2 separate regions of the Homo sapiens genome follow, and region 1 is linked to region 2. A link means that fine-mapping ties the variant in region 2 to the expression of a gene that starts in the linked region. Tissue or cell type: prefrontal cortex. Region 2 holds a variant in brackets; the other region holds the start of a gene. All regions are shown on one strand. Distances are from middle to middle.

Region 1 (2,691 bases), 84 kb after region 2:
CGTGCAGATTTGGACAAATATTTATTCTGCACTTTAGTTTCCTTATCTGTAAAATGAATATGATAAGAATTATGTTTACTTACAATATAAACCTCTTCAATGAGTAGAAGCAGTGAGAGACATAGTATAAGTAATCAATACACGCTAAATGTCTCAGAAGTCATCTTAGAACATTAGTAGAATGTATTTTTTATAGTTTGATTTTAAATTCACAAATAGTAACTGTATATATTTATAGAACAAAATGTGATGTTTTGATACCTGTATACATGGCGGAATGATCCAATTAGGCAACTTAGTATATCATCACCTCAAATATGTATCATTTCTTTGTTATATGAACATTACGTGTTTTTGGACTAAGTGAAACAGAGACTGTTTGGAAAGCCATAGAAAGTAGCCACCCTCTTTTTATCCTCACACCAAAGAAAAGCTGACCACTTGCTAACCAGCCCACTTATTTCACCTTAAAGTAAATTGAATCTGGAACCCTGGATCATTCTATGAAATTTTCCAAAAAGCTAGTCAGAGGCCGGGCACCGTGGGTCACACCTGTAATCCCAGCACTTTGGGAGGCTGAGGCACGCGGATCACCTGAGGTCAGGAGTTCGAGACCAGCCTGGCCAACATGGTGAAACCCTGTCTCTACTAAAAATACAAAAATGAGCCAGGCTTGGTGGCGGGTGCCTGTAATCCCAGCTACTCAGGAGGCTGAGGCAGAATAGCTTGGTCCCGGGAGGCAGAGGTTGCAGTGAGCTGAGATCCCGTCATTGCACTCCAGCCTGGGTGACGAGAGTGAAACTCCATCTCAAAATAATAATAATAATAATAATAATAATAATTAAAATCTAGTGAGAAAGCAAAGTAAACTCAAGGAAGTCCTGGCTTTGCGATTTTGTTTTGTTATTCCTAAGCACTGCCTCACCTGCTCTAGCGTGGGAGCTGAGTCGTCAAGGGGAAAGACAATGAAATTGCTCTAAGTTATCATCTCTCCAGGCATTGTTCTGTAATAACTGTCACTGTTAACAGAAGAGGCCTCCCTCCTGCAGTGGGAATACCAGGGGTGGGCACTGTCAAGAGACCCAGCTTTGACTTCAAATGCCACCCAGAGGGACAACTGCTCACTTTCAGAGCAGGAGCAGGAGGCCAGAGGAGAGTGTGAGTCTAACATCTGCACAGTGAGAAGTCCAGGAGAAGCAAAAATGAGATCCAGGCTGGAGCGGCTGTGCCAGAGTAACTGTTCCAGCGGGTGTGGGGGAGGGTCCCCCAAAAAGACTTACCTGGACTGAATGGGAAATAATAGAAAATAGGAGCAAGAGACTGTCACTTTATAATAGGTTCTGTTATGACCTCCTACAACAATATGTTAGAAATTATGATTTCTAATATGTCTATGATACAGATAGACATATAGTTAGAAAACTAAATAAAGAGACAGATTTTGAGCTAGGTATACTTACAGATACAGACATTGATATCATAGATAAACATGTTCTTTATTTTTATATTGTCAATGTTTGTGTTGCTGGAAAAAGGGGTCCCTATGATCCAGACCTCAAGAGAGGGTTCCTGGACCTCCCACAGAAAGGGATTCAAGGTGAGTTGTAGAGTGTAGTGAGAAGAGATCATTTATTGAAAATTCTTCAGATTCAGAGTAGGGTGTCCTCAGAAAGCAAGAGGAGGAATGCCCTGTCTTTGTTTTAAACTCTTCTTACACAGGGGTCTCATCTACATAAAAGCTAAGCTATCTCTGTGTGTGGGTGGGCTGACAATGTGACAAGATGTAGTACTTTGGCCATTTAAAGAAAGTTATCCTTGGCATTTTAGTTTATAAGTACATGAAAGCATGATTGTACATTTCTTAAAAGCATATATTGTTATGTGATATTGGGACATGTGGACTTTCTGCTGTTGTAGGAGTTTGTCCTTGCAGGCATTGCCAAGCGGTTTCCTCTGCAGTAAACATCTTATGACCACGGGTCATAACTGGCAAGGAATGTGTGTTGCGAGTTTAAAGATGGAGTTAATTTTAAAATGGTGACACCTGGCTCTCTAGGCGCCTGCTTTTCTAACTTTTCTAGGTATAAACCTAATCTTCCTTGCTAGATCACAACCTCCAATGATCTATTTTTCATCTTCAGTTGTCCCAAGCACTAGCTTGTTCTGCGAGCGTCTCGTGGTCATGGAAAACTGATAAAGCACAGCATGAGAGGCTCAATGGATAAGAAATTATAAAGAATCACTAAATTTGCATAGGTGTTTTGATTGTGACCTACCGAGGAAGGAAGTGGAGAGGGTGTGTGGGAGGGAGGACAGCAGATGTGTAGACACGGCTTCATTTGCCTCCCACCGGGAATTTTGCCCGAGACTTATGGAGAGAATGGCCATTGGCAGAGACTGAAAGAGTTGATTTGATTCTCTGAGGCCTGATGCACTTGGTGAATTGTTTTGGGGTCTCTGTGGCATTAGGATAGGGGCTTTTTTTCTTTTTGTTTGTTTTGTTTTGTTTTTTTGGTCAAATGTCCTGTGTTTCAGGTTTCAACCAAGACTTTGGGAAACCAGGACTACTTGAAACCCTGATGGACTGCAGTGTTCAAAGAAGGAGGGAACAAAACCCTCTGGAAACCTCTGGAATTAGTGGCTGGGAAATAGCCCTTGGTTACTCTATGGACAGCAGATGTCCCAGACAGA
Region 2 (2,691 bases):
AAGAAGCTCCATAAGCTGCCATGAGCACACATGGAGGCTCCTGGAGAGGACGGTGAAGCCACCCCCGGGCAGAATGGTGTCCAGGGGTCGATGTCTTCTGCTTCTTTCTGCCTACCAAATCACTCCTGGGTTCCCCTTAAACCAAGCTCTGACCAGTAGGCTCAGAGGCAAATAGATCAGGGAAATGTACCGCCCAGCCTTAGAAGAAGATGGTGGCACTGATGTGTCAAGAGGAAATATAGCACCTATATATATGTACCAAGGGAAGAGGGGGGGAAGTGTTCAAAATTACATTTCGTTCATTCATCCATTCAAAAAATACTTAACAATCACCTGCTTTATAGCAGTCACTGTCTTGCACCGGGATATAACACGGTACAAACTAGGTGCGATCTTTGCGATTATTAGGTTTATTGGTAGCAGTTGTTGCTGTTACATCTCACTGCTCTCATTGCAAATGTTGATGGTGGCTTTTACGTCTGTGAAAATAAAAAGCATGACCTTTTGATAGTTGTTTGCTGTATGGAAGCCTATTTTACTATGTTTGCATGCAAACTTCTATCTGACCTTAAGCTAATGGGAGCTTGTAAAGAGGTGGAATCGAATGTAAAGTTTGAAAAGACAAGAAAAGAGAAAAGGAAAGGGAAGGGATGGGGAGGGGAGAGAAAGAGAGGGGAGGGAGTCGGAAGAGAGGGGAGGGAGGGGAGGAGAGGGGAGGCAAGAAGGAAGGGGAGGGGAGGGAAAGGGAAGAGAGGGGAGGGAGGGGATAGGGGAGGGACGGGAGGAGAGGGGAGGGGAAGGGAAGAGAGGGGAGGGGAAGAGAGGGGAGGGAGGGAAAGAGAGGGGAGGGGAGGGGAAGAGAGGGAAGAGGAGGGGAGGGGAAGAGAGGGAAGGGAGGGGAGAAACAACAACCATATGTCTTTATTTCCTGTTAGCTCCATTTCTGGCCTTTGGTCTCTTTCTCGGAAAGCAGGCCTCAGTGGCCTCAGTTTCTTCCCAGAACCTGCAATGCCCCACCAAGGTGACAAGAAGTGCAAGGTAGTTAGCTCTCCTTCAGTGCTTATGAGTTGAAGGTGATAACATCTGAAGACCGGTT[G/A]TCACATTTGAATTTTTCTTTTTATTTCAGGAGTCGGTTTTCACTGCCAACCAAAGAGGTGACCCCCGCAAAGCAACCATGTTGGGACAGTCCATTTGCTGCGTTTTGATTATTTGCTAAGAGCAAATACCTTTTCTGTTTGGGTTTTGCTTTTAGAAAAAAAATGTGGCAGATGGTGGTGGCTTTCCCCGTCATTGAAAGAAGAAAGGTAGTAACTCTACTGGTGCACTCCTCTGAGTTGTGCTAACAAAGAAGAATGCTGAAAGAAAAGGGAAATGAACACCATTTTCAGGCAGCTTCTCCAAGTTTTTTTGACAGTGTTATAATTTTCCTTTAGCGACTGTTGAAGCAAATATCTGTATTTATGTTCAGATTAAACCGAGAGAGCAAAGACTGCTAAAGCCAGTAATTTCTGGGCTGCAAATGCAGGATAGCTCCAGTGAATTTCAGATTCTTAAAGGTTTTTGCTGTAGCGAATTCATGACACAAAGCATTTGGAGGGAAACCTATTAGAGAAGAAACACATCCTAAATGAGAATTACTGAGGACGGGAGGCTCTTGTCATTTATTGGATTAGTTATAGCACTTTACACAAGCCTGTAATATTTGTTCTGCTGCTGTGGTGTGACTGGTAAAATGAAAAGGTATGTCAAGGGAGTGCTTGACTGACGTTCTTATTTCTTCCGTCTTCTTATATTGCTGGGAGGATTCTACCACTGCAGGGCTAGAAATTAATATCACACTCATTTGATAGGAAGAGCAAAAGCAAGGTTATGAGTCAGAGACATTTTGGTCCCAGAACAATAACTCTATTGATTGAGTCAAATATGTTTAACTCCAACAGCAAGACCTTCCATCTGCGTGAAATAATCATGTCCGTTAATTGTAAACAGGAGCATCTTTGAAAGCTGAGCTAGAGGCGGAGCAACTGGTAAACCAGATGTCCCAAATTTCTAGGTTTGTACATTGTAATTGTTCTAGACTTGTGTGTGGATATTGGTAAAATGACATAGTCAGATATCTCACAGATTTTGTGAGATATGTCCAAAGTTCCCAAGTTAATTTATTACTAAAGTTAGAATTTCACTTACTGTGAGATTGGAATGCCAGCCAGCTACTGAACCTTATGTGTGCCTAGGGGCCATTTTGAGACAATTTGCTGAATATTAAAAGTACAACCAATAATGTTTCTCTCCACATCCACAATAGCGCTTAGAGGAAGCATCTGGGATTGAGCCATCTCACATCTGTCTAATCACATTCATTCAAATGTGATGGGCCCAACTGGCCTACGTACATGGCTGCATATCACCATGGGTGGAAATTAAATCAGAATTTGGCTCAGGAGAGAGATGAAGAGAAAATGCACGTAGATAATTGGCTCAGATAACATTCTGTTTCTGGAAGTCACAAAGAGTGGAAATTGGAATATGTAAATTAAAGAAAAACAGGTAAGAATTCACATGAACCCCAACCACACACCCTGTGTATGTTCTCATTCTCATTCTCTCTATGGTGCCTGTGAGCAGTTGGAGTTTGAATTTTTCAGTCAGTAAGGTTTGCTGTTTATTCGAGGGCTGCTCCTAAAAAATAAT

What was found. PIP is the estimated chance that this variant, and not a neighbour inherited with it, causes the effect.
Region 1: it holds the start of LINC02347, and the variant in region 2 is the best candidate, but not a certain one, in a credible set for the expression of LINC02347 in prefrontal cortex (GTEx, PIP 0.65).

Annotation. Positions count from the first base shown.
Region 1 is chr12:126,441,431-126,444,121 of GRCh38, forward strand. It overlaps LINC02347 (long intergenic non-protein coding RNA 2347), which reads left to right and starts at 1,051. Exons shown (of 12, transcript NR_130748.1): 1 at 1,051-1,158; 2 at 1,536-1,597. The region is part of intron 2 of LINC02825 (long intergenic non-protein coding RNA 2825); the gene reads right to left.
Region 2 is chr12:126,357,100-126,359,790 of GRCh38, forward strand. LOC105379613 (a long non-coding RNA gene) reads left to right here. Exons shown (of 3, transcript XR_001749379.1): 3 at 1-628. LOC101927531 (a long non-coding RNA gene) reads left to right here and starts at 920. Exons shown (of 3, transcript NR_187677.1): 1 at 920-1,038; 2 at 1,127-2,547. The variant G/A (reference allele first, on the strand shown) is at 1,097.